2 separate regions of the Homo sapiens genome follow, and region 2 is linked to region 1. Evidence: fine-mapped QTL for protein levels in blood plasma. A gene starts in region 1. The other region holds a variant in brackets. All regions are shown on one strand. Distances are from middle to middle. Region 1 holds the start of PLXDC1 (plexin domain containing 1). Region 2 overlaps PLXDC1 (plexin domain containing 1).

Region 1 (10,524 bases):
TGGCCGCAGGCATCCTTCTTGGAGACGTCAGGGAAATGTTGGATATGTTGCAGATTTAGTGAGTGGAACTCTCTCCCTCTCCTCAGCCCTCAGTCTCTCCGTAGGAATAATGTGTGTGTGTGTTGGGGGGGCAGATTAAGAGACCCCTGAGGCTGGGCGCGGTGGTTTACGCCTATAATCCAGCACTTTGGGAGGCTGAGGCAAGAGGATCACTTGAGGTCAGGAGTTGGAGACCAGCATGGCTAACACGGTGAAACCCTGTCTCTACTAAAAATATAAAAATTAGCTTGGTGGTGGTGCACGCCTGTAGTCCCAGCTACTCGGGTGGCTGAGGCAGAAGAATTGCTTGAACCCGGGAGGTGGAGGTTGCAGTGAGCCGAGATTGTGCCATTGCACTCCAGCTTGGGTGACAGAGCGAGACACCGTCTCAAACAAAACAAAGCAAAATACAAAAATTAGCCGGACGTGGTGGCGGGCGTCTGTAATCCTAGCTACTCGGGAGGCTGAGACAGGAGAATCCTTTGAACCTGGGAGGCGGAGGTTGCAGTGAGTTGAGATCGGGTCACTGTACTCCAGCCTGGGCGACAGAGAGAGACTCCGACTCAAAAAAAAACAAAAACAAAAACAAAAAACCCTGGAATTGCTCTTCATTTCCTCAAACCTCCTTCCACCCTCAGGCTTTTTAGCCCCTCAGCCATTTTTGTCCCATTCCCTTTGGGCAAAGGAGATTCTAGCAAGGTGAAGAAGGTGGGCTCAAGGGGAGGAGGGCAGAGGCAAAAACTGGAAGGGGAAATGGAGGAGGACAGGACGTCCCAGATAGGGACAGCCCTTTGCACTGCAGGGATTCCACTTCTCCTCGTCTTCCCATTCCCTCTGAGATGCTGACTCTGACCACAGCTCTTGGACTTTAAGCCACCCCACAGCATCCCCTTTACTTCTAGTGTCCTTCCAATTTGAATCCCACTCCTCCCAAATATACCAGATTCCTAAAGGGGCTGCTTGTTTGTCTTTGTGTAATGATTTTTGTTGTTGTTGTTATTGTTGGAGTCTCGCTCTACCGCCCAGGCTGGAGAGCAGTAGTGGCGCGATCTCGGCTCACTGCAACCTCCGCTTCCCGGGTTCAAGCGATTGTCCTGCCCCAGCCTCTCGAGTAGCTGGGACTATAAGCGCGCACCACCACGCCCTGCTAATTTTTTTGTATTTTTAGTAGAGATGGGGTTTCACCATGTTGGCCAGGATGGTCTCGATCTCCTGACCTCGTGATCCGCCCGCCTCGGCCTCCCAAAGTGCTGGGATTACAGGCGCGAGCCACCGCGCCCGGCCAGGATTTTAAAAAAAATACTGTATTAGGATTTTTATAAGGCTGTAGTAAATGCTATTGAAAAATGCTTACCTCTTATTTCAGCCTTCTCCTCTGTCTGTTCCTCAAACTGGCTTTTGGTTTGAGAGAAGGGGAGGAGCGACCCTGGGGTTGGAAAAGCCCAGGAGACAAGATGGAGATCCAGTCTGTTCATCTGTACATCCCTGGACCTGGGGCGGTCCTGGGGACAGTCCTTTTCTCAAGCCAGTCAGTGGACATTTGGGGGAGAGTCTAGGCACGGATATAGAGGACCCAATATTCCTTTTTTTTTGAGACAGAGTCTCGCTCTGTTGCCCAGGCTGGAGTGCAGTGGCGCGATCTCGGCTCACTGCAAGCTCCGCCTCCAGGGTTCACGCCATTCTCCTGCCTCAGCCTCCCGAGTAGCTGGGACTACAGGCGCCCGCCACCACACCCGGCTAATTTTTGTATTTTTAGTAGAGACGGGGTTTCACTGTGTTAGCCAGGAGGTCTCGATGTCCTGACCTTGTGATCCACCCGCCTCGGCCTCCCAAAGTGCTGGGATTACAGGCGTGAGCCACCGCTCTCGGCCCAAGATTCCTTAATCTAGTTGGTTTTCCGAAAGCGTGGCTATGAAGGAAGAACTCAGGAGTTCTAGCCATTCCCATTGTATTTTGTGTTTTTTTCAGTAGGTATCCCGACGCAACCCTCAGATTAAAACTTTAAGGGAAAATGAAGACCACACCCCTATTCCATAGAAATTAACTCTAATGACAACGTAGTGGCGTGGCGGGGGTATAGCTCAGTGGTAGAGCATTTGACTGCAGATCAAGAGGTCCCCGGTTCAAATCCGGGTGCCCCCTCTGTGCTCCGGAGTTACCTCGTTTTGTTGGTCTCCGGAGGTCCTCTAAAGAGTTCCCGCACAGATGGAATGGGAGGGAGTCTCGAGCCCTGCCACCCTTTTTGCTTTCGCAGGCGAGTGAGGATGGAGTCCTGGCCCCTGCCAGTGGCTCAGCCTGTGTGTGTACCCAGGGTAGAATGCAATGCGAGTGAGGGCGAGGAGCTCCGGGCTGACCCTTGGAACACGGTACGGGTGGCTCAACCTCGCAATGGCAGGGCGGAGGCGAGCGCACCCCCAGGTCAGCCTGGCTCTTTCTTGGCGGGAAGGAGGCTGAGTTTCTAAGGGCTGGGCTGGGGAAGACAGGTCGGGAGAAGCCGCGTGAGCATGTGGGAGGGAGAAAGAAGCTCCGAGACGTGGCAAGGGGTCTTCTGCAGGGCAGGAGAGTGGGACGCCCCCGAAGTGAAATATTTCGAGAGACTTCTCCTTCCACACCCCAGGAATATATTTTCTTATACTGCCAGTGGGGATCTTCAGCTCAGAGCTTCAGGGAACAACCCCTGCTTCCAAGTGAGTAATTCTTCTGGGAGTTGTATTTTTTCCATCTCTTGTAAACGTCTTACCCCACTTCCACTTCCCTTCGGGAACGCCACACAGCGCCTGCGCAGCAATACCACTAAACGACTACGTGCGGTCGGTTTGCCGGCAGAGGGGGTATAGCTCAGTGGTAGAGCATTTGACTGCAGATCAAGAGGTCCCCGGTTCAAATCCGGGTGCCCCCTCTTTGGCCTTTTCGAGATACTGTTTTTGTCCTGGGTGTCGATTTTTCCTAAGCTGTTTGCTTTTACTCCTACTGGCAGACGAGGAGCAGTGAGGGACTGAAAGGAACTGGGGATTCAACAGCAGTGGCTCTCAAAATGTGGTCCTGGGACCAGCAGCATTACCTGGGTACGCTCGGGCCTCATCCCAGACCTAATGAATTAGAAACTTGAGGGTGGAGTCCAGAAATCTGTGTTTTCATATACGCTCCCCATCGCTTGAGTCCAGGAGTTGGAAGCTGCAGTGAGCTATGATCGCAGCACTGCACTCCAGCCTAGGCAACGTGCGAGAACCTGTCTCAAAAAACAAACAAAATACACACACACACACACACACACACACACACACACACACACACACACCCTGCAGGTGATTACGATCTCAAGTTCTAGAGGCTTACGTTAAAATTTACACATTTGCTTCTACTATTTACAAGTTTATGTTTCAGCCTGAGCTCTTCTTGTAAGACAGACCACGAGGTACCCCAGATGGAGGAATGTGCAAAGACGCCGGGGCTGGAGCTGGAATCCGTCCCGAGACTTCTCACCTTGACCTCGAGGAAGGCAGGAGGTCGGAGACAGGGGGTGGGCAGGCTGGGGAAAGAGGAAACCCGCAGGACAAGAGGGTTGTGGCTCGTCACGTGGCCACTTGAGGGCAGCAAGTAGCTGCAGCTGGAGGTAGCTGCCTATCTGATTCTGTTTGAGAGTCCGCCAAGTTGGGATTTAAATTAGACATCAAGAAGAATTTACAGACCGGCCTTGCCTTGTTCCACGGTAAGGGGACATTGGGTTTAGGGCTGGAGGAGGTAGTCTCTGGGACTCTGGGCCCGGCGGAAGGAGGAACCGGCGTTCTAAGAGATTAGAGAGCCTTTAGTTGTTTCCTTTCTTAGGTGTTTTTTTTTCTTTTCTTTTCTTTTTTTTTTTTTTAACCTCAGTGCCACGGAATCCGTCTCTTCCAGCCCACAGTGTACCTTCTCCTGTCCCCGCCCATATCCCTCCTCCTGGAAAATTTCTCCAATGGCGCTCAGCGTTCGCACCCTTCCTCTCCGCGGTTTTCTAGTCCCTAGGCCCCAGCCCACTAGAAGCCAGGATGCCCCCTCACCCCGTCTCCCACTCTCCAGCGCCCCAGCTCCTTGCCGTCACAAGAACGAAGTAGGTCAGGGGAGGGAAGAGGCATCTTCGTGTCCTGACCTGATTCCTTGCCGTCTATTAAATATCCTACATTGCGGGTATTTTTATTCTGTCCTGGAAGAAAAAATAAAAAGATTATCTATCCCCAGAGCCTGTCAGAAGGTGGTGACAGGTGGGGTGAGCCATTTCCTCGTCTGGGGCTGGCTCTGAAGATTGATTGGGTCTGGCCCTGAGTAGGCCTGGAGGCCCCAGAGAGGCAGGAGGCCTGGGTTACCTACTCGTGGGGAGGGGTCCAGACTGTTGCAGAGTAAGGGGTAGCCAGGCCCCCTCCACCCTCACGTCTGCTAGGCTTGGGGGGCAAATCGGTGCTGGAAATGGGGGGTGGAGGGATAAGGTGGAGTCATGGAAGGGGGGTGGGATTCAGGCCCCTCTTGGGGAGAAAAGCTGGGGGTCTTTGCTGCAGGGGGAGATTTCTGGGGGTGGGGGCTGGAGGACAAAGCATCAGAGACGCACAGAATTCCGAAGAACAGCTCAGGAAGTCGCAGAGCTTGGAGGAGCTGGGGGCGGGGAACAGTCAGGGGCCCGTGACCCAGGGATGGGGCGCCTGTCCCTTCCAGGGGTCCAGTCCTCGGGCCTTCTCTCTGCAGCTTTCCCGGCGGAACGGAGGAGGGAAAGGGAGCCAGGAGCTCAGTGAGGAGCGCGGGGCGGCTGATGCTTCTAGGGGTTCTCTCAGCCCGAGGGGCTCCCGCCCTGTCCCCTACTCTGCACCCCTTGCCTTGGGAGCGGCTGCAGAGCTCTAGGGGAGCGCTCCGTTAGGGCTGAGGGCAGGCGCCGGGAGAGCCCCCAACGACGCCGCGCCCCCCGCCCCGCCCCCTGCCCCAGCTCCCCCCCACCCCCACCGACCCAGCGGCCCCCCCAGCTCCCCGCCTGCTCCCGGAGGCCGCAGCCTCCAGCTCCGCTCGCGCTCTCGCCGCTCCTGCCGGCTCGCCCGGCCCCGCGCTCCGCCGTCTCCTCGCCGCCCGCCCCTCCGCCAGCCCCGGGGACCGCGCGGCCGCAGCCTGAGCCAGGGCCCCCTCCCTCGTCAGGACCGGGGCAGCAAGCAGGCCGGGGGCAGGTCCGGGCACCCACCATGCGAGGCGAGCTCTGGCTCCTGGTGCTGGTGCTCAGGGAGGCTGCCCGGGCGCTGAGCCCCCAGCCCGGAGCAGGTAGGACTGGCGGGAGCCGGCCCGGGTGGGCCGGGGGCGGGGAGGGACGGGCAGTCAGGTGTGGGCATGGGCAGGTGTGGACGGCCTGGCGATGTCCGCGAGGGGGGCATTGTCCGCAGGAGGCCAGGAGAGCTGTGGGCTGTGGGCAGGTGGATAGGGACCCCACTTTCCCAAACACATAGGGTGTGTGAGTGACGGTGGAGACACCGATGCCCGGACCTCTCCTTCTCTCCTGGAAGGATACTGGAGGGACCTTAGGAGAGGGGGCTCTATGTGGCCATGGGCTCTGAAAGGGGACAGCGGGAGAGTCATCAGGACCCCTGATCACCCCAGGCAAGGCTGAATTCTGATGAGATGGGAGCCTGGGGAGGCCCCTGCCCCAGCCATGCCTTCTTTTCCTCTTCTCTGCCACACCCCCGACCCCAAAGCTGATCCAGGCTAGGGATAGGTGGGAGCAGCCAGGGGGATGGTGGGGACACAGCGTCTCTGCCTGGGAAGGCAGCAGCCATTCGGTCACCTTCCCTTGCCTATTTGGTGTCAGTAGAGAGGCAGTGGGCCCAGGAAGAAGCAACTTGCTGCTTCTGCACCCCCAGCCTCAAGAGTCCCCCTCCTCACACCTGCTCCCATTTGCCCTGGCAGCCTTTGGCTTTCAGCTACTCTGGCTCTAGATGGGGCACTGGGGTAGGGGGTGGAGGGAGGCGTCCCATTCTGCACACTCCTCTTCCCCCCTACCAGTTCTCCAAACTCATCTCTCCCACCTGGAAGTCCTTTCTGAGATCTACCTGGAATCCCTCATGGTATAATTTTCATAGTCTCTGTTCTCCCCTAAGCACCTAGACTTTCTCTGGGGTTGGGGAGATGGGTAATTTGCAGCCTGGCCCCTCAGCAGAGATGATTAAGAAGATAGATACCTGTGCATCATTGGCATGGGTGCCCCTCAGGTGGGGTGAGGGAGGCGCTGTTGAGGTGAGTGCTGTGGTTGACCTGCTGTGTCTCAGGAGTGTGCTGGCACCAGGCACAGTGTCAGTGGCAATGTTCTTGACTTTAATGGTCCCAGCATGTAGCTGAGACAGACCTGGGTCCCTATTGAGAAGAAGAGTATGTTGGGGGTGGGAGGGGAAGGAGGCTGACAGTGGGAAGTATGGGCAGAGGGCAGTGGAGCTGACGAACCGAGAAGCTGCTGGTGAGAACCACCAATTTTCAGGGAGACCACACAGAGGGTGGCCAGAGACGTGGCTTCTAGTCCCGCCATCTCACTTGCTGTGTGACTTTAGACAAGTTACTTTCTCTCTCTGGACCTATTTTTGCATTTATAAAGTGAGGCTGTTGGCAAAATCTTTGACTCTTGTGCGTGGAATAATGAAGGATCTTTTATAATTGCCTTTCCTTTTCATATTTGTTAGGGTCTTTATGGGTAACTGATACTTTAAAAAAATCAAGGTAAACAGGAGAGAGTTGGATATGTTATGAATAATTTCTGGGCTCCTTTGAATCCTCAACCTGGTGTGATCTTCTGAACTCTGGGTGTAACAGAGTTTATGAGGGGAGGATCTGAACCTTTGGCTGGATTGTGTGAACCACGGAGAGGGCTGGGGAAGGGGGAATTGGGAGGTAACAAGGATGGGCTGGGAGATAGTGGCCAGACCCGGGCCTGGCTGAGGGCGGCCCCTTCAGAGTAGGGTTGGGGTAGTAGACGGTTGAGGAGACCAGGAAGAGTGGGGCAGGCAGAGACTTGAATCACTTCTCTAAGTAGAGGCTATCCTGTCTTCTTGGCTTTGACAGAGATTGAGCCAGGAGAAATGCACTTTTTCTGCAGCAGGAGGGATAGAGGTTAGACTTAAGGAATCTGTAAGAAGCCAGAGGCGGCAGCTGTTGACTCCCAGTCCGGTGCCCTTTTCACAGGCCAGGTGGGATTTCACAGGCAGGAGGACCTATGAGGAGGAAGCGGGTGTCTGGGGAGGCCAGATGTAGGAGAAGGACGTTCTGGGGGAGAGTTGCTAAGGAGGGGCAGCCTGACCTGATTGATGGCGGAGTTGTTGTGACCAGTGGAAGGGCAGCTGGGAGCAGGACCTGAAGAGATGCTAGCATCCTTCCCCAAGGCTCTGGGTTTGTGGGGCTGGTGGGGGGCCTTGGGAAGTAGCTGAGATCTCCCCTCGCTCCTGATGGACAGGCTTGTTTGGTAGAGCCTTGAAACCTCATCTATCATTAGAACAGCAGCAGCAGAGAGATGAGTGGCCCAAAGACAGAGTCAGACAGCAGGGGAGACCAGGATGACAGACAGGAAAATGGCCTTGGGGTGCAGAGCAGGGGCCCAGGGAACTGACAGTCTGGTCAGATGGAACCAGAGGTGCATATGACAGATAAAGAAGAGGCAGCGAGAGTTGGCATCCTGGCCTGGGAGTCCTGCAGGAGGCCAGGCTCAATACCAACTACTGGTGACCCTGACAGCTTCCTCCTTTCTCTGAGGAAGGTTTCCCCGTCTATAAAATGGGGGCTTGCACCAGTCACGGTGGCTCATGCTTGTGATCCTAACACTTTGGGAGGCTGAGGTGGGAGGATAGCTTTAGACCAGGAGTTTGAGACCAGCCTGGGCAAAATAGTGAGACCCCATGTCTATAAATGATTTAGGCCAGGCAGGGTGGCTCATGCCTGTAATCCCAGCACTCTGGGAGGCCGAGGCCGGCGGATCACCTGAGGTCAGGAGTTTGAGACCAGCCTGGCTAACATGGTGAAACCCCGTCTCTACTAAATATACAAAAATTAGTATATTTAGTATTGTTATTAATATTATTAATATTAGTATATTAGTAAAAATTAGCCAGGCGTGGTGGTGCATGCCTGTAATCTCAGTTACTCAGGAAGCTGAGGCAGGAGAATAGCTTGAACCCGAGAGGCAGAGGTTATAGTGAGCTGAGATCGCACCACTGCACTCCAGCCTGGGCAACAGAGTAAGACTCTGTCAAAAAAAAAAATTAAAATTAAAATAAAAAATTAGCTGGGCATGGCGGTGTGCGCCTGTAGTCCCAGGTACTCGGAAGGCTGAGGCAGGAGGATCGTTTGAGCCCAGGAACTGGAGGCTGCAGTGAGCTATGATCATGCCACATAGTGAGGGCAGCATAACGAGGTCCCATCTTTTTTTAAAAAAAGGAGGGAAGGAGGTTGGACCAGATTGTCTCTAGGGCTCCAACAACCTGAGACTAAAATGCGAACTTATGGAGGTCAGGCAGCCCCTCCCTCATCCCACCATCTTCTCTAGCTCTCCCCAGATTCACCCCTTAACCCACTCCAGCTGCCGTCCCCTCCGATCGACAGATAACTAACTGGCTTCTTCTCATTCAGGTCTTAATCAGCTCAAGGGGACCCTCCTCAGAGAGCCCCACCTCATGGCTCTGTGTAGAGTAGCAACAACCCCAACCCTTTCCTCTGTCTGATTTTCTTCATAGCCCTTACCAAATGATTCATTTTGTATGTCTCCATGAAGAAAACTAGACTCTTCCTGGGTACAGGGCTTGTGTCCCCCCAGCACCCAGCACAGTGCCTGCGACTCAATAAAAGTGTATTGAATGAATGAGTGAGTGACTGAGTGAGTATATCAGAGGTGGCACAGATCCCAGACTCTCCCCTCAAGGGACACACATAGAGAGCTGAACTCTTCTTGCTGTCCCTCCCTTCCCCTCCCCTCCCCTTCCCTCCCTCCCTCTTCCCTTCTGCTACCTGGTGGTCCCTCCCTGCACTTCCTTTGACTCCTTCCCTCTCCCCAGGTGAGGGTCCTCAGTGGGTCCCTACCTGCCAGAGGAAAGGGAGAGGGTATGGTTAGGGGCTTTGTAACTTGGAGGCAGGATTTCAGTTTAGGGTTTGGAGCCTTCCCTGGCCCCTCTGAAAGCTGGTCCTGTGACCCTAACTGGTGTGTTGCCCAAGGTGCAGCAAGTTGACACACCAACACCGAGGGGGCAGCAGAGAAAGAGTTTCATCATCGTGGGGCAGCATTTGGGGCTAGAGGTTTTATGGGGTTTGGGGTGGGGTGGCCAACGTGTGGGAATTGTTAATTGGTTGAAGAGTGCATGAAGAAATAAAGAAACTGCATTCTCATGTTAAATCAGTTCCTCGGCTGGGCGCGGTGGCCCGCGCCTGTAATCCCAGCACTTTGGGAGGTCGAGGTGGGTGGATCACAAGGTCAGGAGTTCGAGACCAGCCTGCCCAATATGGTGAAACCCTGTCTCTACTAAAAACACAAGAAAATTAGCTGGGCGTGGTGGTACATGCCTGTAATCCCAGCTACTTGGGAGGCTGAGGCAGGAGAATTGCTTGAATCCGGGAGGCAGAGGTTGCAGTGAGCCGAGATCGTGCCACTACACTCCAGCCTGGGTGACAGAGCGAGACTCCGTCTCAAAAAAAAAAAAAAAAAAAAAAAAATCATTTCCTGTCTGAGGGTCTTCGAATTGGCCCTTCTGCTGGAATTCAGGATCCGAAAACCATCTTAATCCTTCTTTTTTTTTTTTCTTTTTTGAGACAGGGTCTCACTCTGTTGTTCAGGCTGGAGTGCAGTGGTGTGATCATAGCTCACTGCTGCCTCAACTTCCTGGGCTCAAGTGATCCTCCTGCCTCTGCTTCCTGAGTAGCTGGGACTGCAGGCATGCACCACCACATCTGGCTAATTTTTTAAAATTTATTATTAATAATAAATTAAATTTTATAATACCTTTTTTTATTATAAAAAAGACAAGGTCTTGCCATGTTGCCCAGGCTGATCTCCAACTCCTGGGCTCAGGTAATCCTCCTGTCTTGGCCTTCCAAAGTGCTGGGACTACAGGCATGAGCCACCATGTCCAGACTTTAAAAAAAATTTTAGTAGAGATGGGGTCTTGCTATGTTGTCCAGTCTGGTCTCGAACTCCTGGACTCAAGTGATCCCACCACCTCACCCTCCCAAAGTGTTGGGATTATAGGCATGAGCCACTGCACCTGGCCTTAAACAATTCTTAAATAAAAGCTGGCCAGGCGTGGTGGCTCATGCCTATAATCCCAGCACTTTGGGAGGCCAAGGCGGGAGCATCATTTGAGGTCAGGAGCTCAAGACTAGCCTGGCCAACATGGTGAAACCCCATCTCTGCTAAAAATATAAAAATTAGCTGGGTGTGGTGGCGCACTCCTGTAGTCCCAGCTACTTGGGATGGTGAGGCAGGAGAATTGCTTGAACCCGAGAGGTGGAGGTTGC
Region 2 (10,574 bases), 12 kb after region 1:
GAGGTTCCTTAACGTCTTTGTGCCTCAGTTTCTCCATTTGTAAAATGGATTTTAAACTAGTAACTATTTCATGGGATTATTGTGGGGATTAAGGGGGTGGATGTGTTTAAAGCCCCTGGAATAGTGCTAGCACAGAGCAGCATTCTCTGAAAGTCAGCTATCATTTTTATTACTAGGGTGATTATTATGGCATCCCACTGGACTGCACACTACTTGGGGCCATGAGTGAGTGAATCAATGAATGAACAGCTTGTGTTCCGGAAGCTCCTTGGCAACACATGCAGGCGGGGAACGGGTCCAGGGAAAATGGAGCTCTCTCCAGTGGAAGGCAGGTGGGGTGAGGAGTGGCTGAGGGTTGGGCAGGTGTCCAACTTGTGTGTGAGCACATACGGGAAGGCCGAGGCTTTCAGGAAAGTCTTTGTGGGCATGTGCACAGGCACGTGGGCCCCTGCACATACACGTGAGCAACCAGCTGTGTTGGCTTCTTTCATGAGTCGTGGGGATGACGTCCTGTCCCAGGCAACAGGGAAGGAAGGGTGGCCAGGAAACAGATGTAGTATGGGTTGGAAGAGTAAGATTCAGGGCTAGGCCAGGGTAGGCCAGGGTCCTGGTCAAGCTCCCTCTCCATCCCTCGCCCTGCCCTCTTTCATGGACTCTTTACCTCTTACCCTGGCCTGAGCTCTCTATAAAACCTCATTTGTGTTTCTCACTTGACGCTTATGGCAGCCTGTACTGTGGGCACCATCGTCAAATCCATTTGAGTCACTAGGGAGCTGAGGATTAGAGAGGAAAACTGATGGGGCTAAGGTCCCATAACTTGTGAGTGGCAAGACTGGGTGTGGAGGTCAACCCAGTGTCTCTTCCCTGGCCACCCCCAGCTGGGCCCCCTCCCTGTCCTTCCCCGGGCTGCAGGCCTCCACCATCCCGCCTCCTGTCTCGGCTCCAGGTTTGTGAATCCTGAAGATCCCCAACACTCCTCTCTGGGCCGCTGAGCCCCTCCACTTGTTCACTACCCGCTCTATCCTGTTCTGGCTCCTGCCCAGGCCCCAGGGCTGCTTGCAGGAAGACCTGGGGAGCTGGGCAGACCAGCCCAGCACAAACAGCTCTGTCTCCAGAAGCAGCTGTGGGCCCCACCCAAGAGAGACCAGACAGCCCTGGCTTGGGCCTGGGCAGTGGGCAGGCTGCCTTCCCAGCCCTGGACTCATGTCCATCTGTGGGCAGCCAGTGGGCATCTTGGGGAAGGGGTCTGGGGACTGCCCTCCTCCCCACGTGCTCCAGCAGCATCTGGTTGCTATTAGGGGCAGAGAAGTGAGAGGGGGCCGGCAAGGGTCCAGTAGGCGCCAGCAGCCAAGAATGACTTAATTGGATACAATGTCTAATGACAAAGCAGGGCCCCACAGCGGAGTTCTGGCCTCAGCCCCAGGCCTGGGCCTGGCCAAGCCTGGTCTCAACCTCTGTCCTTGCTGGCTCCCAGGAGCTACCCTATGCACTGCGTCCTCAATTCTGCAGTGATGGAGCACCTGCTGTTTGCTGGACATGCCAAATTTGAAGAAGGTGGAGAGAATCCTGGGGGAACTCAAATCTACCAGGGAGATAGGCACATAGTCGCACACGTAGGTGCTCTAGGAGAGGGAGAGCCACATCCAGGAGCTCTGGGGAGTGGGCTGGGGGAAGGCAGAGGTTGAGACAGGTATCTGACACAGGGTGGGCCTGAAATGGAAGAGGGTCATAGGTGGGGAATGTCAGATCCACCTATCTGATGGTCTGTTCTCATATATACATCCATAGTAGGTGTGACCATTAGAATGACAATAAAAGCCACAGCTTTGGGGGGCATAAATCTTTTTGAAGTGGAAAAGGATGGTTTTTGTGTTGTTTATTTATTTATTTGGAGAAGGAGTTTCGCTTTTTTGTCCAGGCTGGAGTACAGTGGCGCAATCTCGGCTCACTGCAACCTCTGCCTCCCAGGTTCAAGCAATTCTCCTGCCTCAGCCTCCCGAGTAGCTGGGATTATGGGTGCCCGCCACCATGCCCGGCTAATTTTTGTATTTTTAGTAGAGACGGGGTTTCGTCATGTTGGCCAGGCTGGTCTCGAATTCCTGACCTCAGGTGATCCACCCACCTCAGCCTCCCAAAGTGCTAGGATTATAGGTGTGAGCCACCACGCCCGGCCTTTTGTTAGAACTAATTTAACAGACCTGGTGCAGTGGCTCACGCTTATAATCCCACCACTTTGGGAGGCCAAGGTGGAAGGACCGCTAGAGCCCAGGAGTTCAAGGCCAGTGTAGGCAACATGGTGAAACCCAGCCTCTACGAAAAATACAAAATAAAATAATAATAACTAGCCGGGTGTGGTGGCATGCAACTGTAGTACCAGCTACTCAGAAGGCTGAGGTGGGAGGATTGCTTGAGCCTGAGAGGTCAAGCGTACAGTGAGCTGTGATTGTGCCACTGCACTCCAGCCTGCATGCTAGAGTGAGACCCTGTCTCAAAAAAAGCATGCATTTAACAACCTAGAGGGAACTGGAGAGGAGATCATGGAACCTAAAGCCATTTCGCAACCTCCAGAAATGGAGGTTCGCATGGCCGCGAAATGGCCTGTGTGTAGTCACTTTCCAATCCTGTGCCCATGGCAGACATTGCTTATTGATCTTCACAGTCCTTCCTGCTAAATACAAGAGGAGCCTTTGCATTCTCAGTTGGAGTGCCTCTGGCTGTCACGAATGGATTGCAGATGGCATGTGATATGAAACCTATTTGCCATCCTAGACAGTATCTAGGTAGTGATAGGAGTAAAACAGTAAAAAATTACCCCTCCCTCAATGGGGCAAGGGGGGGTTAATTTTATTCCCCAGGGGATATTTGGCAATGTTTGGAGACGTTTTTCATTGTCACAGCTTGGGATGGGGAGGAGCGTGGTGCTACTGGCATTTAGTGAGCAGGGGCCAAGGCTGCGGCTGCTAAACATCTTACAGAGCACTGGACAGTTCCCGCATAACAATGAATTATCCAGTCCAACCAACAATCCAATTTAAAAACAGGAAAAAGACTTAAATAGACATTTCTCCAAAGAAGATATACAAATGGCCCACAAGCATATGAAAAGATGTTCGGCATCACTAATCATCAGGGAAATGCCAATTTATAAAAACGATGAGATATAACCTCATACCTGTTAGGATGGCTACTATAAAAAAAACAGAAAATAACAAGTATTGGCAAGAATGTGGAGAGATTGGAACCCATGTGCACGGTTGGTGGGAATGTAAAATGGTCCAGTCATTTTACATGGAAAACATTTTATATGGAAAACAGTATGACAATTCCTCAAAAAATTAGAAATAGAATTACCATACAATCCAGCAATTCCGCTTCTGGGTATATACCCAAAAGAATTGAAGGCCAGGTCTCAAAGAGATATTTGTACACCCATGTTTGTAGCAGCATTGTTCACAATAGCTAAAACGTGGAAGCAAAACAGACATCCATTGATAGTTGAGTGGGTTAGCAAAATGTGGTATATCCACACAATGGAATATTATTCAGCCTTCAAAAGGAAGTCAATTCTGCCATATGCTACGACATGAATGAACCTTGAATTTATTATGCTAAGTGAAATAAGCCAATCACAAAAAGACAAATATAGTATGATGCCATTTATATGAGATACTTAGAGTAGTCAAAATCATAGATACAGGCTGCGCGCTGTGGCTCATATCTGTAATCCCAGCACCTTGGGAGCCAAGGCAGGAAAATTGCTTGAGACCAGGAATTCAAGACCAACCACCCTGAACAAAATAGTGAGACCCTGTCTCTATAAAAAGTAAAAAGATTAGCTGGGCATGGTGGCGCATGCCTATAGTCCCAGCTACTTAGGAAGCTGAGGTGGGAGGATCGCATGAGCCCAGCAGTTGGAGGCTGCAGTGAGCTATGATCGCACCACTACTCCCCAGCCTGGGTGACAGAGCAAGGCCCCATCTCTTAAATAAAATAAAATAACAGGGGTGAATAGGGAGTTATTATTTAACGGGTACAGAATTTTAGTTTTACAAGGTGAAAAGAGTTATGCAGATAGATGGTGGTGATGGTCATACAACATTAGGAATGTATTTAATGTTACTGAATTGTACACTTGGAAATGGTTAGATGGCAAATTTTGTTATGTGTATTTTGCCACAATAAAAAAATTGGAAAAGGAATTATCCAGTCCAAATGTCAATAGTACCGAGGTTGAGAAGCCCTGAACGAAAAGAACTCTGGCTTCTAGTCCCCTGACCCCACTGGGAAATAGGATTATGTGCCATTTCTGCCAGAGAAATAAGAAACTGGTTTGGAAGGCTCAACGGCAATGGTTCTCACCCTTGCCTGCAGAGTTAAGTCCAAGACTCCTCAAAATCTCCCCTGAGGCTCTTTTAAGAAATCGAGGCTAGGCGCGGTGGCTCACGCCTGTAATCCCAGCACTTTGGGAGGCCGAGACGGGTGGATCACGAGGTCAGGAGATTGAGACCATCCTGGCTAACACGGTGAAACCTCGTCTCTATTAAAAATACAAAAAATTAGCTGGGCGCGGTAGCGGGCGCCTGTAGTCCCAGCTACTCGGGAGGCTGAGGCAGGAGAATGGCGTGAACCCTGGAGGCGGAGCTTGCAGGGAGCGGAGCTCGGGCCACTGCACTCCAGCCTGGGTGACAGAGCGAGACTCCATTTCAAAAAAAGAAAAAGAAAAAGAAATTGAATGCCCAGGCTACACCATAGACCAGTTACAAGAGATCTCTAGGGTGGGACCCAGACATCAGGAACTTTTGAAGCTGTCCAGGTGACTCCAGTGTATAGCTGAGGTTGAGAATAATCACCCTTTGGAGGCAGATCAGCTTGGGTTTGAAACTTACCTGCATGCCTAACCCACTGCGTGACTTTTAACCTCTGAGCCTCTGATTCTTGTTTGCAAAATGGAGAACATCCTAACTACTGCGGAGAGCTGGCATGAGGATTAAAAGGATATGTGCGAAGTGCTTGGCCTGGAGCTGGGCACGTGACTCTCAGTACACATTGGGTGTCTCCTGTCCTGGTAGTCAGTCAAGTGTCTGCAAATTCTACAGTGGCATGGTGTTGGGGCCCTTGCAGAATAACTGGGCTGGATTCCCCTCCTGATCTTCATTCCGGACTGCTGGCACTCAGGTTTCTGTCCCCTTCTCCCAGGTCACGATGAGGGCCCAGGCTCTGGATGGGCTGCCAAAGGGACCGTGCGGGGCTGGAACC[G/A]GAGAGCCCGAGAGAGCCCTGGGCATGTGTCAGAGCCGGACAGGACCCAGCTGAGCCAGGACCTGGGTGGGGGCACCCTGGCCATGGACACGCTGCCAGATAACAGGACCAGGGTGGTGGTGAGTGCTGGAGGAACATGGAGGGGGAGCGAAGTGGGGGTGGGGGAGGTCTCACCAGCTGCCCCAGGTGTGCTTGTCCTACATGCAAATCACATATCATTTGGGGTTGGCCCCGGAGGACAGGGTGGAGAGAAGAATCCCCGGGGAGGGGATGGAAGCAGGGCCCAGACTGGGTCATAAAATCACAGCATCTCAGCGTTTCATAGGCTGCCTACTCCCTCCTGGACCCAGAGACATCAAATGGATTGTATCAGGATGCACAGCCTGACCACAGCATTCCTGAAACTGGACTCTCCCATGACTTAGGGAAGAAAAAGCTGACAGTGGCCTTATGAGTCACATCTCAGCTGCCAGATGGGGCCCTTCCCCACCCCATTTCTGCCCCATCTACAGACTGGGGCGCAAGAGGATTAATGGCTGCTTAGCCTAAGGGCTGGGCACTCAGCAGGGGGCTGAGTAGAGAAAGCAATTAGGGTGCAGCTCCTGGAGACAACCTCCTTGGCCTGGGGCAGTTCTGGGGTGCTGGCACAGGGAGGAGAGGCCTGGAGGGAGTGCTCTTCTCTCAGGGTTTCCGGGAGGCTCTTGGAAGCCTCGGTGTGTCTGGGGGTGAATCTATTAATATAATTGTGCGTTTCTGGGAATGGGTGTGTGTGTCATGGACGCTGGGTTCGCACCTGTGTCAGATGATTTTGTATATTATGTATGTGTACCTGTCTGTCACTGTGGGCTGTTTGTGGGTGTCTGTGATGAGCATGTGTAAGTGTGAGTGTGCCTGTGGCTGTGTGTGTAGGTGCCTGCGGCTGGGAGTGATGAGGGTGGATTCTTAGGACGCAAGAAGCAACAAGAGGACCTTCTTCTCAGTATAGATTTATTTTATATTTTAATAACTATTTTCTTAAATTAGTATGTGCTGACAGTTAAAAAAAAAAAAGGTTAAATAGTGCTAAAATCATAAAACAAAACAGCAGTCCTGCCCCTCCTCTCCCCTGGGGCCTGCCCCCTTCCCTTTCTCAGAAGGCTCTGTCTGGGCTGTTTCCTCTGGAGTTTACTTCCATATTTCCAAGGGATTTGCTTATACTGTACTGCTACCTCTCTGTGCACTGGTTTTAGGCCGTACCTATTCATGGCCTGCTGCGGCTCAGGGAGATTTGGCTTTTGTATACTCCCGCTGAGCAACCTTTCACCCTGCCGCCCAATCTTCCTGTTCAATCCGTGTGCTCGGTTGTGGATTGTGACGATCATGTACATAGTGTTCACTTCTAATCCAGGCAGGGTCATAACATTGTTTCTTTTCTTGTATGATTTTGGCTCTTCCTGGATCCTGGCCCCCTCTCCTGCCCTTGCTTACTTAGTTTTCTGTGCCTACCGTAGCTACATTTTCCTACACGTCCCCTAGCCTCAAATGTAATTCCAGTGTGGGCTGGGCATGGTGGCCCACACCTGTAATCCTAGCACTTTGGGAGGCCCAGACGGGTGGATCGCTTGAGCTCAGGAGTTCCAGAATAGCCTAAGCAACATAGTGAGACCCACGTCTCTAAAAAATTAAAACAAAAATTATCTGGATGTGGTGGTTTGCCCCTGTAGTCCCAGCTACTTGGGAGGCTAAGGCTGGAGGATTGCTTGAGCCTGGGCGGTCAAGGCTGTGCTGAGCTGTGACCTCACCAGCCTGGGAAAAAGAAGAAGACTCTGTCTCCGAAAAAATATAAAAGAAAGAAAATAAGATAATTCAGGGTGGTCAAACCTGTCAGTTCCTTTATCCCCCCGAGAAACTTCTCTCCTGTCCTGCACTCCAATCCCGCCCAGCCACTCGCCTGCTGGTACCACGGGTGCCATCCTGGGGCCTCCCTTTCTGTTCGTCCTGGGAACCCCTTTGTCTCCCTCCTGTGTTGGATCCCCTGTTCCCTTGACCCTGTGTCTTCTCTTTCCTGCTTCATCCTTTTGTTTGTTTAGCTTCCTGGGAAAGGTTGCACAGAGGGAAAAATTCCCTTGAGAACGTGCATGTCTGAAGATATCTTTATTCTGTCCTTTCATTTGACTAGTGGTTTGGCTGAATATAGAATTCTAGATTGAAAATAATTTACTTTTTCTTTTTTTTGAGATGGAGTCTCGCTCTGTCGCCAAGGCTGGAGTGCAGTGGCACAATCTTGGCTCATTGCAACCTCCTCCTCCTCCTGGGTTCAAGCGATTCTTCTACCTCAGCCTCCTGAGTAACTGGGATTACAGGTGTGTGCCACTATGCCCAGCTAATTTTTTGTATTTTTAGTAGAGATGGGGTTTCACCATGTTGGCCAGGCTGGTCTCAAACTCCTGACTTCAAGTGATTTGCTAGCCTCTGCCTCCCAAAGTGCTGGGATTACAAGTGTAAGCCACCGCTCAAGGCCTTGAAAATAGTTTTCTTTCACAAGTTTGAAGGCATCTCTCCATTGTCTTCTGGCTTCTGATTCACTGTTAGAGGCTTGGTGTGATTCTTATTTTTGACCTTTGTGTATGCCGGTTTTCCCCTGACTTCTGGAAGCTCTCAGGGTACTCCCTGTAACTCCAGCATTCTGAAATTGCAGTGACATGACCTTCTCTGGCTGTTTTTGTTTGCCATGCTGGACGTTGGGGGACTGTTTCAATCAAGAGACTTACATTTGTCAGTTCTGGAAAGCGTTTTTGCTTTATTTCTTTCAGATTTCTCCTTTCTACAATTCCTCATGGTTAGATGTCCATTTCTGGAAGTGATCCTTCAATTTTTTCTTCTCTCTTCTGCTGTGCGTCTCTTTTGCATTTTTTGTTGTTTATTTGTTAGTGTGCTTGTTGTTCTTCTTTCTGGAGGATTTTCTCAATCTTATTTTCATAATGTCACTGATTTTTTTCTCTACTATCGTATTGTTAATTTCTAAGAGCTCTTTTTTATTTTCAGATTTATTTTTCTTTAACAAAAAAGCATCCTGTTCTTTTTTTGTGGATGTAATATCTTCTCTCTCTGAGGATATTAGAACAATTTTGAGATTTTTTTCCCCTCTGCTCTCTGCATTGTTTCTGTTACTGTTTTTTTCCTTGTATCTCAGGCTCTGAAATGGTTTGGAACCATGACTAAACCTGTATTTCTTTAAAACTTTGGGCCGGGCACGGTGGCTCACGCCTGTAATCCCAGCACTTTGGGAGGCTCGAGGTGGGAGGATCCCTTGAGGCCAGGAGTTGGAGACCAGCCTGGGCAACATAACGAGAACTTGCCTCTATAAAAAACATAATAAACTTTTGATATTCTGTTCATCAAAATATTATTTTTTTGTATTCATTTTGATTTTTTAAAATATTGCATTGAAGTATTCTCTATCTTGATTCCTGAGTTTTGGTGCCATCTTAGATGTTGTACCCCAGGTAGGTGCCTCCTTACCTCACCCTAGTTTGGGCTCCTAGTTTGAGGTGGAACTTCAGGGGACATGGCATCACTCCCTTCCCAATCTGCCCTGTCTTCTTGATCCTGCAGAGCAAGGAGCAGGACTGCCATGGTGAGATGGTGGAGTGGAAGGACAGAGTAGGAGAGGCCCCTGATTAAGGAGACACCTGGCAGTTCATCCCTGACCCCACAGCTTTATTGGGCCATTGGTTGAATAACTGATAACCTGCTCAGGACCAGACACACAGGTCAGAAGGATTATGTCCCAGTCTGCACAAAGAGGACCTTTCAGAAAAGAGCCATGGAGACTTAGATTTCTGGAAGCAATTGTTCGTGGGTGTTCAGAAAGGACAGTGGGGTTCATTAAGAGCCAGTATGGATTCAATAACGCCAGAGCTTAAAAAACACCACAAATTCTCAGGCTCCACCCTGGATGGACTGGTTCAGAAACACTGGGGCAATGGATTTTGGGAATTTGTTGTTGTTGTTGTTGTTTCAAGTTCCCCATGTGTTCCTGGCGAAGTTGCAGAGATTTAAAAATGTGATTCTGATGGTCATGTAGGTGTGGGAACTTTTTTTTTTTTTTTTTTTTAGACGGAGTGTTGCTCAGTTGCCCAGGCTGGAATGAGTGGTGTAATCTCTCGGTTTACTGAAGCCTCTGGCTCCGAGGTTCAAGTGTTTCTCCTGCCTCAGCCTCCCAAGTAGCTGGGATTACAGGCATGCGCCACCACGCCCAGCTAATTTTTGTATTTTTAGTAGAGATGGGGTTTCACCATGTTGGCCAGGCTGGTCTCAGAATCCTGACCTCAGGTGATCTACCCGCCTCAGCCTCCCAAAGTGCTGGGATTACAGGCGGGAGCCACCATGCCTGGCCAGGAACTTCCGATCTATAAGATTTCAAACCAATTTTATAATTGGTGACCCGCTCGATTGTCAGAACATGAGGCTTCCACCATCTCAGGGGCTTTGTGATCCCCTCTGCAGCTACACATCGAGGGTCCACACAGGAGCAAGGCCACCTGGAAGGAGGTCCCTCTGACAGCCATAGGGCTTGTCCCCGGCTCTGCCTAAAGACAGGAGGACCAGGCTTTAAGGGATAACTTATCTGGAGAGTGCAGATGTCAGGTCAGGAACCCGAAGGCCTCATGGGCAGGCTGGAATGACATCTGCCTCGGAACAGATGAAACTACTGGGATAAATATAAATCCTGGCATTTAAGTTTAGAATGAGTTGGGAGAGATGTGGTTTAGCAGCAGCTCACGAGGAAAAGATTTGGGGATCCCCACTTCTTGTGGGCTAGGATGAGTCAGGCGCATAAAGTGGCTGCCAAGGCTGGAGGTGGGAAAGCCAGCTGCATGATGGAAACCTGGGGACTGGGGCTGGGGCTCTGGGGGTCCTGCGGGCTATTTCTTGGGCCTGACTACCATTGAGGGGCTTGTGCTCCCCTTTCAAGTGGTTTCCCAGACACAAGCAGAGTCCAGGGGAGGGCAGCTGGGGTGGTGAAGAGGCTTGCACTCTTGTCCCTGGAGGAATGGTAGAAGGCGTTTGGGGTATTTAGCCTGGTACAGAGAAGGTTCTAGATGTGGTTGTTTTCTTTCTTTCTTTTCTTTTCTTTGTTTTTTCTTTTTCTTTTTTTTTTTTTAGAGACAAAGTCTTGCTCTGTGGCCTAGGCTGGAGTGTGATGGCATGATCTTAGCTCACTGCAACCTCTGCCTCCCGGGTTCTAGCAATTCTCGTGCTTCAGCCTCCTGAATAGCTGGGACTACAGGCACATGCTACCAAGCCCGGCTAATTTTTTGTATTTCAGTAGAGAC

The links. PIP is the chance, under the fine-mapping model, that this variant and not a neighbour inherited with it causes the effect. The UK Biobank Pharma Proteomics Project read protein levels with antibody pairs (Olink). The fine-mapping took linkage between variants from a reference panel, not from the people measured, so its PIPs are less certain.
Region 2: its variant is fine-mapped to the plasma level of the PLXDC1 protein (UK Biobank, PIP above 0.99). The variant lies in the coding sequence of PLXDC1. If it changes the protein, the assay may bind it differently, which can mimic a change of level.

Annotation. Positions count from the first base shown.
Region 1 is chr17:39,146,148-39,156,671 of GRCh38, reverse strand. PLXDC1 (plexin domain containing 1) reads left to right here and starts at 5,035. Exons shown (of 14, transcript NM_020405.5): 1 at 5,035-5,310. The coding sequence starts at 5,235. TRC-GCA2-3 (tRNA-Cys (anticodon GCA) 2-3) reads left to right here and starts at 2,867; the gene lies at 2,867-2,938. It overlaps TRC-GCA2-4 (tRNA-Cys (anticodon GCA) 2-4), which reads left to right and starts at 2,110; the gene lies at 2,110-2,181. RefSeq lists a silencer at 2,052-2,121 and enhancers at 1,998-2,502, 2,503-3,009, 3,382-3,531.
Region 2 is chr17:39,134,455-39,145,028 of GRCh38, reverse strand. PLXDC1 (plexin domain containing 1) reads left to right here. Exons shown (of 14, transcript NM_020405.5): 2 at 5,197-5,375. Among named protein-coding and RNA genes, the nearest start is that of PLXDC1, 12 kb to the left of the region's middle. The variant G/A (reference allele first, on the strand shown) is at 5,257.